Regions from separate parts of the Homo sapiens genome. Here region 1 is linked to region 2. The links come from fine-mapping of genetic effects on gene expression. A gene starts in region 2. The other region holds a variant in brackets. All regions are shown on one strand. Distances are from middle to middle.

Region 1 (8,346 bases), 130 kb after region 2:
GATATGGGTAAGAACAATACAGGTGGAGGGGATAGAATAAGCAAAAGCCTGGAGGCTACAAAGCCTGGAAGTGTGTTTAGGGAAATTGAAAGTCATTCAGTTTAGCTGGTAGGTAATGATCCTGTAGTATCAGAGCACAGTATTGAAGCAAAAACCTGAAAATTGAGGTGATTTGCCAAACTGAAGGGACATTCTGTTTTGAAATTGAGGGTCATTCTATTTCAGGGCCAATGATGTTTTTATTCAATATACAGTGCTTAAACATTATCATTGTTTATTAAACAAAAAAACCCCCAAGAATTGATATTGCATTCTCATTCCTGGGAATAGTGGGGGTCTTTATTCTTTTTGTAAGAGAAAAATGTTTCATTCTTAGAACCTATATATGGTCTTTTTGGATGAGTTCAGTTTTATATAGATGTTGACAGCTCTAAAAATAGCAGCACTAATGGTCCAGCTAAGCACGCAGTACAGCAACCTCAAAGGGCTTCCAGACGCAGGCAGGGGAGCTCTAAGTAAAACATGATTCCTGGAACTACCTTATCTGTCTTTATCAGTTAAACCCATAACTATATTCTGACATAGCCAGTTTCCACAAACACCATTGTGAATTTTATTTTCCTTTCATTCAGATGGGCTTATTTCACATTTTACAGGATGGGGGATGCTAAGTAAATTCTCCTGTGAGATCTCACGCCATTTTCTTTTTAACGTTACTGAAAAGTGTTTGGCAGGTTTGTCCTTTAATTAATCTGTTTATGCATCTGTCTTTCCCACCAGCCTATGAGTTCTACCAGGAGTTTCTTGAAATCTTTTGCCATGTTTCTAAGCATTGTCCTAAGGATTTTACATGGATTCACCTTCATAACAATTCTATGAAGTTGGCACTATTATGAATTCAGTTTCGCAAATTAGCGATCTGATGTATAGAGAGGGTAAGAAAATTATCCAGGTTATATAATTATTAGATGTTGGACTCAATCTATTTCTGGAGCCTGAGTTCTTAAATACATTGGGTTAGGAACTAGGACACTGAATCTCTAGTTCTAGGTTGGCTACAAACTAGCTGAGCAATCTTAAGCAATTATCTTAACTTCTCTGTACCACATTTCTTTATGTGTAAAATAGTAACTGCATTCTTTTACTGTATTATTGTGAGAATTATGTTATACAGCTGTGGGAAAGTGCTTCACACAAGACTTCGTACAGTCCAATTTTGTTTTTTGTTTTTGAGACTGAGTTTCACTCTGTAGCCCAGGCTGGAGTGCAATGGTGTGATCTCGGCTCACTGCAATCTCTGCCTTCCAGGTTCAAGCAATTCTCCTGCCTCAGCCTCCCAGGTAGCTGGGATTACAGGTGCACACCACCACACCTGGCTAATTTTTGTATTTTTAGTACAGACAGGGTTTCACCATGCTGGCCAGGCTGGTCTCAAACACCTGACCTCAGGTGATCCACCCACCTTGGCCTCCCAAAGTACTGGGATGATAGGTGTGGGCCACTGTGCCTGACCACATTCTAAGTTTTCAATAAATGCTAGTTTTTCTTTCTCTCCTGCCCTTCTTTGCTCTAAGAGGCCTATGAACCAACCTTGACCTTTCTAAGGCACATGACTTCGTGTCTCAGTCTGTGCCCAACCCCTGTGGACTAGAAGGTGCTTGCCCTCACTTGAATAAGAGAAAACACAGGCAGTGCCAGAGATTATTGAGAGGGCAGAACTGGATGAGGGTTATTGCAGCTGCCCTTCAGTGACCCATGATGGCAAGGGGCCATCACATCCATACGGGGTCCCATGTGGCCTTGCTGGGTGCATCCGCCTCCAGTCACTCTGTATTGCTAATGTGAGTTACACATGTAATTATCCAGGCAGCAGGCTAAAATACCTCCACAGACAGCAAAGTTTCATCAGCAGAAGGGCACATTTTGTTTCCTGTGACTCCAACAGAGTACTGCCGAGTGTTGCAGAGCTGTGGTGATTAATTGAAGGACAAATTAGAAAGTCATGGAATAGTATGTTGTCTCCATAACCAGGCCTTCATGGGTTAAGCAAAGCAAGAGGTTTAAGAGTGCTTCTGAGATTTTTAGAAATAAAAATATTCATAAAGGTGTTTTTGTGCTATGGGGTCTTCATCAGAATGTTTTTGTTCCAAAGAACTTAGGATCTATATTTGTGCAACTGCGTCCTTAACATTGACTAAGACCATCACTGAAAAATAAGGTGAGGAATGACATTTTAGATAAAAATTTTGTTGGAGAGCAATGTCATGAGTGGAATGCATGCATTTTGTGAGTAAGATATGTGTCTACAGATGAAGACACACACACACAGAAACACACATACACACACACTTGCAAAGACAAATATTGGATTTTTTGGAACATTTGAATGAAAACATTATTCTCTTGTTTTCATTGCATACATCATTGCTGTATTATGGTGGCTTCTTTCGCTCTCTAGTTGACCTTAGTTTCCTGAGAGACATCCCATAGCGTGGGTATGAGGCTAGTGACCTGCACCCCTTCTTGAGGGGAATGTAGGTAGCTGCTAAGCCCTGCATGCTCTGGCATATCTAACAAATGCCTGTGAGAATTGTGAATAGGTTAAAGGCATAGATGATAGAAAAAAAATACAAAAGAAAAAATTAAATGGATTATTTTAAAAATGCAAAGAAGATGGGGAGAGTAAATAACTCAGAATGGAAAGGGGGAAGAGAAGGAGGGGAGCATGCTACTGGCTATTATCTTAATAGCTGCACAGTGTCTGACTCTGTTAAAGGTGCTCAGAATGAATCTTAGAATATTAATGCCCATATTTTATGCCATAGCCTCTAGAGAGGTGAAAGAGAAGTCCAAAGATGGGCAGGGTTGCTGAGCCAACATTTCTAAGGAGCCCTTTTTGTCCGATTCACCTGCCATCTGCAGCCAGCCTCCATATAAACACCTTTTGTGATCAACCCTGATGGATTATTTGTTAGTTTATTTGTTGGGGGAGGGGAATAAAGAGAGGAAAATGTGGGAGTACATGCGAATTTAGGGTGAAGCAAAAGATTTTTAGCTACACAGATCAATACCACCTTTTTCTAGCTTTTTGATAAGAATGCCAAATAGAACTGAGTCAAAAATATCATTGATCAATGGATTGTATCTATTGCTTTTCCCTTTTCTGTATGGTTTTCCACTCCACCAGAGATGAAAATTAAATTGACTTGTCACTATTTTCTCCTCATATAGGCATTCATCTTGCTCAGGGCTTTATTTCTTCAAATTATTCCAATGGCTTACTTAACAGATGTAGTTTCTTTCTTAGTTAAATCAAAAGGTATTTATTGAGCAAGTACTGCTAATACTACCACTGCTACTGCTGGTACTGTTAATACTACTGTCTCTACTACTGCAATGACTGGTCTCATAGTGTTTTAGGCTGCCTTCAAGGTGCATCACCTTATTTAAATTGTACAACAAACCCTTAAGTTATGTACAATTATATGAGGAACTAGGTCTCAAAAGTTTTATAATTTCCTCCAGCTCGTAGTGGCAGGGCTGGACTCCAAGCTGAGATGTGTCTGGTTGTCCGGTTCTAAACCTTTCTACAGGTCACCTTGTAAAGAATAAGGATGGAGCTCAAACACAGATACATAAAGGAATAAAATTAAAACTTGTTCCTGCTTTTAAAATGTAGTGGTTGAAAAGCCAGAAGTATAAATAACTCCAGTTCTGTATAAATGATATTCTCAAATGCTGCATCAGAATCGCTTGGGAGAATTTATTAAAAACATGGATTCCTAGACTGCAACCAAGAACTCTTGGATGAGACTAAGGAATTTGTAAATTAAAAAGAAAAAAAAAGTGAAATTCTCTACTAATTTCAATGTCCAGCCAATTTTGAGAACTACTGTTTTTAATATTGAAACTACTGACTTTAATATTGAAAGTAAATATAAGAAAAGATGAAGTAGTTCCAACGAGAAGGAATGGGAATTGAGAATGGCTGTTTGAGGTTATCTTTATGGTTTTCAGGGTTATCCAGGTCTTAGAAATTACATAATGATTTCTACAAATGATCATCGGTAGCTTTAGACTAGTACCTACTAATTCTGTAAGTGATGATCCTCAACCCTTGCTAATTTGAATAGATCTTGTTATTTCAATGTGCCGTTAAATTGACAAACTTCTCTATAAAACTACGTAGTATGATCTTTCAGGTAACCTAGTCTGGTAATCTAGTTATCCGTGAACTATTCATATCCATGATTTAAAAAAAAAAAAAAAACAACTTATCATCATCTTCCTCCTCACCATCATCATCACCATTTTAAGTTATAACTATCAATATTTTGTTTAGATACATTTTTATGTTCTTGGTCAAGTCAGTTAACTTTTCTGGACCCAAATTTTTCCAAGTATGTAAAGAGGAAATTGAACTTAGTGACCTCAATTTTGTGTAAAGTTATGACATTAAGATCTTTAGGCATCATTTATTAGGAACCCAATTGCCTTGAGAAATTTTTCTTTCGTTGGGAGACTTACTCATCATTTAGTAAATATAGAATCACAACTTCAAAGGCCAGCTCTGGAATAATTAAGAATCTTTCTGGGCAGATTTAAGGTCTGCATCTGAATAGCTGTATATACAGAAAGCCTAAAGGATCAAAATAGTCCAGAACATTTCAGGACTGGACAGCTGGTGAGTAGGTAAAGGTTGCCTGTGCCTCACTCTGTCAGTCAATTTAATGAATATCAAAATCACTCATACACCAAATTGAGAAGCCAAGGATCTCATCTTGACTGAGAATCGGCACCTTCCAGAACCTGACTTAGTTTTGCAAGAGCAGTTTTAGTAGCTAAAAGTTTCACTCTCACCTGCTGCTGCAAGGACTTGCATTGCCAGAGTTGTGTGACTTCTCTTGTCCTTGATTATAATATGAGCAAAAACTGCCTTGAAAAGATAAAGATATTTTACAGTCTGACCTTAAGATGCTCTTGATGGTATGTCTGAAGGAAAAGAAGGAACGTCTGTTCCCAGATAGATTGAGTTCCTT[C/T]CTTATCAGAAGGGTTAAAATAAATATTCTTTCTCTTTTGTGGCTTCCTAGCATTTCTGCAGTAGATAAAAGGGGAAATGTGTGTTGGACTGAGAGTTATGAGGAATCAAATCCAAAGAGATGAGACAAACCTTTCTCTCTGCCAGTGCAGATCAAGTGTGAGTTTGGAGAAATAGAGAAGGAAGGATGTGCCAATCAAAAAAGGTTGACCATGGAAAGAAGAGTCACAAAAACAAGGGCAGCAATACTTGCAAAAACAATATCAAAGGAAAGTCTTGGCTGGCAGACTAAGTGTTCTAGCAATAGCACTAGTCCATGTCTTTGGCCAGCTATTGTAACCAGATGTCATTAAGCATTTTCATCATCCAATCACCTTCCTTGTTCTGATTCTAGGCCCCCTAAATCAACCTCTAATTATAATGTTCTTCCCATGGAGAAAAGACATTGGCCATGGCCAGCGGTTTGTGTGGAGTTGTCTTTCACATCATGAAGTAATAGACTCTTGTTCTTTTTAAAGCATTAATTTGGCTAAGAAACAAATACAAAGTTTATATTTAGATTGCATGTGAAAGCTGGGGAGTGGTCCTCTTGAGTACAGGGACTGGTTAGAAAGTCACTTCCTCATATAGTAAGTAGCCACTAGCCAAATGTAGCTATTTAAATTTAAATTGATTTAAATTAAACTAAATTAAAAATTAAGCTCTTCAATCTCACTAATCACAATTCAAGGGCTAAAAAGTCATACATAGCTCACGGTTACTATATGGAACAGTGCAGACTATCACACATTTTTATTGTCACAGAAAGTTCTGTTGTGCAGCTCTAGGTTAGAAAGTAATTCTTAATTCCTTTACCAGATTATACTTGGTAATCTGCAATGATATACTTAGACCTAGCTGTGCCTCAGCATGTCTATGAAATGGGAAGAAGGATGCTGTCAACTAAATAGGAATTATGTGGGCATTTTAATGTAATTGCTAATTGATGCTTTATAAATAGAACAAAGAATAGTTTGTATATTTAAATATTAATGTGAATCACATTCCCATTTTATTGTGTTCCGTAGGAACTCTATTTAACAATTTTATTTAACAATTTTAAACCTCTCCATCTTTCCAACTGCCTTGCTGTAGAATGAGGCAAAGGGAAATATTGAAAAGTTGTCCTTAATGTTGTCGAAGAATTATAGGCTACTGTAAATTTGTAAAATGTATGTTACTAAATGTGACTTTCAAATAAGCAAAGCTTTACCAGCAAAAGAACTAATGATGATATCTTACGTTTGTGTGCTGCTTTTCTGAAATGCTCTCACATGCATTCTTTGATACTTAACCCTTTGAAATAGTATATTATCATGCCCATTTTACATGTTCAAAAGTGATTTATTCAAGGTCGTAGTGGTAATGTCAGCAATAGAACCTGGGCTTTCAACCCCTAAGTTCATGTTTTATTCTGTTATTCCACTCTGCTTCAGTTGTTAGGACATGTATTATGTTTTAGGACAGGTGACAATAGAAAGAAAATAGAAAATAGAAATCTTGAGAATTTGGAGTCATGAAATATAGACTGGAAATATTGTTCCTCCAGGCCAAAAAGTAGACCTGAACCTTTGGAAGTCACAGGGAAAGAAACTGCTGTCTCATCTTTCCTCTCTGCCTGCTTCATTCACAGAATTTACCTTGCATTCATTCATTCATTAATCCAGTGTAGACTGAGCAATTATTGTCTGTCACACTTGTTAGGCTGTGATGATACAGAGAAGATCAAGACATGCCCTCTAATTTTGAGGACTCCACATTCCTCCGGGGAAAGAGATACATGTTGATTCATATCTTATGGCATAGATGCTGAGAAAGGGTTTATTGTAAAATGCTCTGACAACAAAAAAGGAAGGGGTGATTAATTTTGTCTAGAGGGAGCTTGTCCTGAGCAAAAGCTTCATACTTTGTATAGATGACATGTAAGATGGATCTTAGAGGAAAAGCAGGATCTAATAGGCAATTTTAAAAGATGGTAGGGGGAAAGGTTTTTAGGTAGAAGAAACAGCGTGAGCAAGTTTCTGTTGATTTAAAACAAATAAAAATAGTACCATTTATTGTGCTTATTTGGTTCCAGGCATTTTACGAATGCATTAAACATCTCTTTATTCTCATAACAACACTATGAGATAGAGATTATTATCATGTGCATTTTATAAATAGGGAAATTGAGGCTCAGAGAGGTTAAGAAGTTTATTCTAGATCAAATATCTAATAACTGACACAAGCAGAATTCAAAGGTACACAGCCAGATTTCAGCAATTTTGCTCTTAATCACATAGTGGTTATAATGCTGTATAGTCAATTTTATAATGTGAAAATTTTTTTCTTTTTATGGTATATCATAAGCTGTTTCTCAAGTCATTAAAATTCTCTCTAAATGCTATTTTAATGGTACAGAAACCCATCTTATTGATGCATTATAATTTGTTTAACTAGTCCTTTATTGTTGGACATTAAGTTGTCTCCAATCTTTTACTATTTTGAATAATAGTGCATGACTATTTTTGTGTATCAGGACTTCCTCAACAGGCCCAATCTAAAGGAGAAAGCACCAGGAGATTTTCTTGGTTCTATCACCAAGAATAAGAGCAGTCAGAGAAAGCAAAAGCACATACTAAATGCACTCTATTTTGGATTATATGCTTTGAGAATTGTACCCAGCATGTTGAACAACCCAAGTTGGCTCCATTTAGAGTCTTGAATATTTCTAGGCCTCTGGTACCCAGTTAGTATGTTATTTTAAAGTATTGCAAATTAGTTTTAATATTAACCTAAAAATAATTTAAAAAGTAAATCAGCTGAAAATGTTATTACAAACCCAAATAGAGGTGAACTTTGGATTATCTGCTCTTCTAAATTACTTATTATAGTGTTCTGTCCATTTAAGTGACTGCTGGCAGCTTTTGATTGCTTTGCCCTGAGTCAAATTTGGCAAAGAGAATGCAAAGGTTTAGGTTAAAATGTGAAACTTTTTTCTAACTAAATGCAATTTAAAGTATTAAGCTTCACTTCACCCATACCGATTATATATCTCTTTTCTTGCTTAGTGATGGCATCCATTTTAAGGAACAAACCTGGAAATGCTGAGCAAAGAACACATACCCTTCATTTCCAAAGGTTCATTTCCCACTCTTACTTTAGATTGACAATGAGTTGTAGTTCAAAGGCTGCCCTGCAGGGAAGCTCATATACCCTATAATTTAAAGGGCCTCAGACGACTCTTGGGAAACTTGGTAAAACATTCTATTTAGAGACATGCCTGCTGA
Region 2 (8,346 bases):
GATTAGGTAGGTTAGGCAATTCTATAATTCTGATTACAATCCAGATTTACTTTAATATATCCATTTCTCAGAGTGAATGTAGAGACAAATTCCAGATTTGATTGAGTTACTACAAATTCCACATTCCTACTACTTTGATGTAAATTACTTCATATTACAGTATGTTAAACATATGTTTTCTCCAAGCACCACCAGGCAAGTTCTTCTGGTAGTATGAGGTTACCAGTATAGGTATTAGCTAACAATCATGTATAAACATCTTCTGTTTATGATATGCTACCAGCCACCATACTTCCTCCTTGTCCTGAAAAAAACTTTCCTTTCTTCATACAAAATCTAGTTGACTGACACAGGAGAATACTTATACTCTTTAAATGTCTAATCCTTCCCCTCAGAGTATCTCTGCTCTTACTGGGGGTCATACTATTCACCTAGCACCAGCAATGGAAACAGATGATTCTCATAGCTACCAGTCCCTTTTATCTCTCTTTTCTTCCACTTGACATGGAAGAAGCACCAAACCAAAGGATATATGTTAATCGAAGCCTTTGTCTAAGCCAACTCTTCATTCCTAAGTGCTTAAAATCATCATTCTCAGTAAACTATCGCAAGAAGAAAAAACCAAACACCGCATATTCTCACTCATAGGTGGGAATTGAACAATGAGATCACATGGACACAGGAAGGGGAATATCACACTCTGGGGACTGTGGTGGGGTGTGGGGAGGGGGGAGGGATAGCATTGGGAGATATACCTAATGCTAGATGACGAGTTAGTGGGTGCAGCGCACCAGCATGGCACATGTTTACATATGTAACTAACCTGCACAATGTGCACATGTACCCTAAAACTTAAAGTATAAAAAAAAAAAACAAAAAACAAACAAACAAACAAAAAACAAAAAACAAAACAAACAAACAAAAAAATTAGCCTGACAAGGATGGTCAAGTCTGTTGGTGGTGTGGGGAAAGGGAGGGTGCTCTTTTCTCTGCAATCTTGGCAGAAAATTATGTAATCCTTGCATCTTTGATCTTCGTTTGTTTGTTTGTTTGTTTGTTTGGCACTTGAAGCTCATTTGTCCATTGATACCGGGATTCACAGGATTATGAGTTTTTTAGTCAACTATCCACTTGGCCTAACTATTTCTCCTATGGCAAAATGGATTCCAAGTTTTAAACAGCTGAGTTATAACTTAGTGGTCGAACATTGGTTTATTAACTGGGCACTGTGTATAATCCCTGACATAGGACACCTTGATTTATATAAAATGAATGCACAGTACACATAAAATTAATTGAACTCCATCAATCATGGATTTGTGACAATTCAGGTTCCAATCCTCCGTGTTTTCTTAAAAGCAAAATAGGTCTTCCTTTTTTTCCTCACGTAATCTGTAAGAGTTCATCTATCTTTTAAACTGAAAACATGCGCAGAAAAAGTGCTTTGAGTATTCTGAGGACAAGCCAGTTTCAGCACAGTGTTTCTTTAAGGCTTGTGCTCTGGTGGGGTTTGATAAGGATTCCTAAACATGTTTCTTTCTTTCTTTTTATTTTATTTTTGGCAAATGTCCTAGGCTAAACATTTGCTTACATAAGAGGGATGGGTATAATATCTATGTACATATTTATTTTTATATATATGGAATATTTATGGAAAGATATATAACAAACTTAAAATATATGTTGCCTCCAAAAAAGAGAAATGGGTTGCCTAAAGACGGGAATAAGAAGAAAACTACGGCCGGGCGCCGTGGCTCACGCCTGTAATCCCAGCAGTTTGGGATCCCAGCAGTTTGGGAGGACGAGGCGGGTGGATCACGAGATCAGGAGATCGAGACCATCCTGGCTGACACAGTGAAAACCCGTCTCTACTAAAAAAAATACAGAAAAAATTAGGCGTGGTAGCGGGCGCCTGTAGTCCCAGCTACTCGGGAGGCTGAGGCAGGAGAATGGCGTGAACCCGGGAGGCGGAGCTTGCAGTGAGCCGAGATTGAGCCACTGCACTCCAGCCTGGGCAATAAAGTGAGACTCTGTCTCAAAAAAAAAAAAAAAAAAAAAAAGAAGAAGAAAACTGCAATTCACTCTATAGCATCTTGTACCATTTGGTTTTTGTACCATATGAATACTTTCATTATTTAAATAAATATAATCAAAGAAGAGAAAAATAAAGTCCTTGGCTGGTACAAACACATTTTTTATCCTCAACATCAGTAATGAGGGAGATGTCCAAGAGTGTGGGGCTGTCACTTGAGTGACTATCAGTGGTCTTTATGGTCCTCATCACTTGCTTGGCTCATGGAATAAAAGGAGTGACAAATGATGGTAACCTGTCTGCCATTAGCAGGAGTACTGCACACAACCTTACTTAGTGTCTCCTTGCAAATGACAAGCTTTCTGATTTACAAATCTCCTTCCTTGCATATGAACATTTTGAGAAGTAAGTGCCAGGAGGAACTTGGGTAGCAATTCAATGTGCCCTTTAAATAGTAATCCTTAATACCATTACTCATGTGTAGGATTGAGTGAGAGTTTCCTGGAGAGTGAAGTTGATTTAGGGATCAGGGATCAGCTGCTGAGGCTGGCACTTGGAAAAAACAAGCCAAGCATTCACACCCCAGACCACTCAATACCAGCATTGTCTCCAATCCATCTTTCATAAAGGGGTTCCAAGAGGGGGAGGGGATGAAGGAAGGAGAGAAAATAAACCATTTTAATCCTGTAAGAGAAAGTGCAGGAAAGAGGAAAGAATGAACAAGACTTGAACACGCAAAGCCAGTTGCCAAGAATGTTTCGTTTGAAATCAACTTTGGCTTTTAATCTTAGACTCCACTGTCAAGTTTCTCCTCAGTTTCCTTCTCCCATCTTTCAGGACATTCCCCACCCTCACTCCCCACCTCAAAGCTTTCCTGTCCTCTGTCCCACTCCCCTCATTTGCAACTCTCCTTCCCACCTCCTTTTTCTTCTTTCCTCACCCCTTCCCTCTCCTTTCCTGGACTCTTTCTCCTGTTCTTTTATAACTTAAGTCCCTCTCCTTCTCCCCTCTCTCCTGAACAGTACCTCTAAGCTCCGTTCCCCCTTCTTAAGGAAATCAGCCAGGCCTCAGATGGAGCTGTCGTCCTGACAACCCAAAGGCGCATCAGGCTTTCATTGAGGCTGGCTGCTGCTGAAGGGGGCAGTTGTGCAAAGCGAGGGGCCACGTCGAGGGGAGGGCGGAGGGGATGACGTGGAGGGGCTGTTGAAAACCAGCAGGGTGGGGGGAGGGTGGGGGGGTGGGGGGGAGGTGCTGAGCTGAGAGAGCGCCAGGGACTGGGAGAAACAGGAAAGGGAGGAGGGGGAGAGAGGCTCTGGGTTGCTGCTGCTTCTGCTGCTGCTGCTGCTGTGTGGCTGTTTCTGTACACTCACTGGCAGGCTTGGTGCCGGCTCCCTCGCCCGCCCGCCCGCCAGCCTGGGAAAGTGGGTTACAGAGCGAAGGAGCTCAGCTCAGACACTGGCAGAGGAGCATCCAGTCACAGAGAGACCAAACAAGAACCCTTTCCTTTGGCTTCCTCTTCAGCTCTTCCAGAGGGCTTGCTATTTGCACTCTCTCTTTTGAAATTGTGTTGCTTTTACTTTTCACCCTTCTGCTTGGGTTTTATGAGGGCTTTGTTAAGTCTTAGAGGGAAAAGAGACTGAGCGAGGGAAAGAGAGAGGCAAAGTGGAAAGGACCATAAACTGGCAAAGCCCGCTCTGCGCTCGCTGTGGATGAAAGCCCCGTGTTGGTGAAGCCTCTCCTCGCGAGCAGCGCGCACCCCTCCAGAGCACCCCGCGGACCCGCACCTCGGCGTGGCCACCATGGTCAGGAGAGTTCAGCCGGATCGGAAACAGTTGCCACTGGTCCTACTGAGATTGCTCTGCCTTCTTCCCACAGGACTGCCTGTTCGCAGCGTGGATTTTAACCGAGGCACGGACAACATCACCGTGAGGCAGGGGGACACAGCCATCCTCAGGTAGGGCTTTCGGGCAACTTTTCTGCTGCGCGCGTCTACACGTGTGTGTGTGTGTGTGTGTGTGTTTGTGTGTGTGTGTGTGTGTGTGTCTGATCTCCTTGAACTCCAGCTCCTGATGCTGCAGGCTTGTGGTGTGTGTGTGTGTGGTGTGTGTGTGTGTGTCCCTGTTTTACTGACTGGTTGGCATTATAGCTAACAAAATTCAAGGGAATTCTGGTCCCTGTCAAGCAGCAGTGGTGTTGGTTAAATGTTGTTCGGTTCTTAGGACCTTGTTTCTCTTATCAAGGAAGCCTAACTTCACCCATGGCATTAGTGACTTCTGGGCAGTATTCTCACTATTGTAATTGCTGTGGCATTGCACTTGAGAGTTTTGTTGGGGGTCCTTAATTCTGAAAGAAAGGTTGTTGGATTATGGCTCTCAGAGAGTAGTACACAGTACTGCATTCTCCTTGCTCCTCCCGTGTCTGTGTGTGTGTGTGTGTGTTTTTCATGCCAACACACACACACACATACACACACACACACACATATCAAGGTTGTGTGTGAGGGTTTCTGATAGAAGACTTTCTGTAAGGATCTTCTAATTGACATGGAGGGCAATAAATCAATCTTAGAACTTTGGTTGGTTACTGAGCCTTTCCTGGAATGTGGATATAAATCAACACAAGATATGAAGAGCAGAAAGAAAAGGAATTTGCCAAATTGCTGATATTTAAGAGTAGGAGTGTTAAACACAGAGGTTGGGAGAGAATTAACCTGGCATAAAATGGATATTTCAAATTGATTATTGACTTCAAAGTCTTTTTTTCTGTGCAGCTCTGGCAAACTCTAAAATAATTTGAGATTGAAATTTGGAAAGAAGAGTCCCAAGTCCTTGGGAGTTTGACCCCTATCAGGTACTGTGAGCTAGAGAGACTCAAATGAGACCTAGTCATATTTTTATTTCTAAAATGCTCCAAGGTTATTTTTTGTGCTTCTCTTTTCTCTTCCTCCTCTCCACCAACTGTACCTACCCCTTGTTCTTTTTTCTAGCTTTCCTTGAATTTCTGGCAGATGCTAACAAAAAGAAAGAATCACTCTCCTTGGAGATCTTTTAAAAATCTCATTTCCTCCAAATAAAATGACCCAGTGTCAGTCTGTCTATCTAGGTAATATTGCTTGTTGTGGCAATAAAAACACAGTATACAATAGAAAATAAACCTCTAATCTGTGTGCAAGGAGCTGATAGTGCATAAACCCTGGGGCATCAGGGAGCAGTTCTCTAGCAGAGCTGCCGACAGCAGCAAAGTTTTCTTTCCTTTTCTCAGAAATAAATTTGGTTGGCTGTCACAGTGTCCTGCTTTGGGAGCTCTAGCCTTGTTAGAGACGAAAGTGTGTGTTGTGTGCCGTGCATTGCATGTGTGTGTGTTGTGTGGGTATGTGTTTCTCCAGATTGTAAAAAGTAAGAAAATGCTAATGTGTAAGCACTCCTTTCTTCATTTCCTGAGCTTTGGGTGATTACGAATCCCAAAGATCCTACTATCCAAAGCAGATTTTCCCTTCTAGCTCTTCAGCCTTATAAACCTGCATGTGTGATTTATCCACATGGAGTAATCAGATTTACAGAGTAATTTATCTGTTTGCAAAGGAATTTGGACATGGTGCAGAAAATGTTTTTGCAAACACACAAGCATGCCATTTCAATTGCTAACATTCATACTCCCTAACATCATTAACCCTTTAATGGTGAAGCACTCTATATAAATATATGCTATCCCTAGAAATTTTGTTCACTGGTTACAAGATTGAATATGAGAAAAATGAATAACTTGAATGTATATGTTTTTTATTTCAGTGTCCTTGAGCTTTGTAAGGTCTTTCTAAGTTAGCATCTCCTATACCTTAAACTACAGTTGTCTAAGAGTTAGATAAGTATAGAAATGTTAATTCAGAAGAATAAAAACATTCTTATGCTTTCATACAGAGGCAGTCTCACTGTATACATATCTATGGATGATACATATGTGCTTTTGTATGTCTATGGCGCAATAGAAACAGAGTTTTAAACATTACGCTTTAGCAGACATTACAGTGTGGAAATAGGGACTCTGAGAGAAAAAATAAACACAGAACCACTTATTCTCTGGGAAAGAAAAGACAGACAAACAGAGCATGCAAATAAGTCGCCTATGAAACACCATTTCTTTTCCAGACCTCACCTTACATGCCCTCTTTTTTATTTCCTTGCCTTGGACAAGGGTTTATTTTGGGGTTGGTGGAGCTTCATCAGAATTAACTATGGAGAGAATTCCCTTTGTCTTCTTAGCTGACCTTCTTCTCAATCTCTTTAAAACCGGTAAGCTTTCTGGGTCAGTTTCCTGGTGAAGAATGGTGCTCTTGCTTTCTGCTTATAAGGCCAGCCTGGGAAAGGTGTGTTTTCACTTTATTTGTGACATTTTACTGGGTGCATGAGCTTTCAGGGAAGGAAAGGAAGGAGAACTTGATTCATTGGAAGCCACAGTAGATGTCTGGCACCGAGAAAGTGAAATGGCTAGGAGAAAAAAATAATTCTCTTAGTGAGTTTGTGGCCCCGAATGATATGAGATGGCAACAGGAGACAAGGGAGGTTTGTAATTCTGGTAATCCAGTGACAGGAGTTTGGCTGTCTGTCCCCAAAACATTTACCTTCACTGACTTAAAGTTTTCTGTGAAACAAGAGTTTCTTTTGGGGATTGATGCTCATTTTTGTATAATTATGATCTTTAGTGTAATTATGCATCAGATAGGAGAGTGCACACTAGGCTTCAGGTCTTGCCCTCAATTTCTATCATTTTGAAAATAATAAAAACTATATAATTATGGTGACAAAATTGGAGGGAAAGAGAGGTAGCTTCATGTATACATACCTAACTCAATTATTTTCTAGAGGAGATTACAGACCTGTGTGAGAAATTATATAAAGAACTAAAGATAACCACAATACCAACTTCTGTCCCAGGGACAAAGAATCAAAGTGTGATTCACAGAGTAGTGGCGGCAGCAGCAGCAGCCTTGGCGGTCCTCCCTAAATAGAACAACCAGAATCTGCATTTATATTTGTGTGTACAGGAAAGAGTGAGACACGCTTATCCGCAGGACTTCAGTCATGAAGCTGCCTCAGGTGCTTTTCTAAACAGAGTCTACCTGCCTCATTACCAGCTCCCACAGGAGTAAGAGTTCAATTACAGGATAAGTTTCTAACACTGTTTCTTCCCTCCTACCCTCATACCCATAGAGATTCACCTCCTGCTTAATATTGGAAGGTTGAGACTATGTATTAATAGTTCTCTTACAAGTCAAAGAATAGCAGAAATAGAGGGTATTTCAAACCAACCTTTAAAATTTCATTTTTAATAGTCCTACTGACCATATTTTCAACATGAGTGGCAGATTTCTGAAAAGATAATAATAAAATATTTGGCCACAAAGAACCATGTTAGTTTTATAATACATTATATTATCACATATCTATTCATAAGGCAACTTTGTAAAACGTACATACACATGCGTATCTGGATATAAAACAAGTAGGCATGTGATAAAATACAGGGACTTCACACTTGTGATTTTAAATATTCTAAATTCAAGGTAATAAAATTTTATTTAGCTCACAATTCTGACCCTATCTGATGTTTACAGGATATTATAATACTTTTAATGATAATAACATTGTTCCCAGTTAAATGTTAGCGTACCTAACAAGTATTACAGATTCCCAAGGAAACTAAGTATCTAAATGAAGAATAGCTAATGTTTAGTTTTTTCAAAGTTGGGGTCTTTAATTCCCTGTTTGTTTCTACACCAAGGGGGGAAAAGAAGAAACAACAAAAGGAGATTTGATTATTTGATAGTGAAATATAAAGATCTTGTTCAAATTTCTGTTTATCTTCTGTAAATCATGTGGAATGGCAATATTCACTAATGAAGTGTCAACCCTCAAATTCTTGATACGATATGTGATTTTCTATGACTTACAATTCACTATTTGAAACAAACTGTGGGCATGGGCCTACTGGGTAAGTTTGTGACCATCATGAAATTTTCTTTTTCTGTAGTTAAATCACTAAATGTTATCAAAATTTGTTGGTTAGCCCTGATACTGTAAGGATCGTGCATTGCAGATAAATCCTTTATCAAATATACTTAGTAAATGATGGAGTATAGCATACTATATATCATCTAGGAATATGGCATATTATATACATTTTGTTAAAGAATATTTATGTACCTGTGAGCTTTATCATTTGTTGTCATTTATGGCCTGAGAAACAGAGTGGGCAAATCTCGCAAGAAAAGCAAATTGTGGCCACCTGTGTTTCTGTAAGTATGGGACATATAAGTG

Direction of the effects. Alleles are on the strand shown, and positions count from the first base shown. SD is a standard deviation of normalised expression in the study named.
With allele T in place of C in region 1, the expression in lymphoblastoid cells of the gene that starts at base 3,376 in region 2 is higher (large effect, 1.2 SD a copy in GEUVADIS).

What was found. PIP is the estimated chance that this variant, and not a neighbour inherited with it, causes the effect.
Region 1: its variant is fine-mapped to the expression of LSAMP in lymphoblastoid cells (GEUVADIS, PIP 0.95).

Annotation. Positions count from the first base shown.
Region 1 is chr3:116,306,839-116,315,184 of GRCh38, reverse strand. The region is part of intron 1 of LSAMP (limbic system associated membrane protein); the gene reads left to right. Among named protein-coding and RNA genes, the nearest start is that of LSAMP-AS1, 49 kb to the left of the region's middle. The variant C/T (reference allele first, on the strand shown) is at 5,040.
Region 2 is chr3:116,440,517-116,448,862 of GRCh38, reverse strand. LSAMP (limbic system associated membrane protein) reads left to right here and starts at 3,376. Exons shown (of 7, transcript NM_002338.5): 1 at 3,376-3,986. The coding sequence starts at 3,832.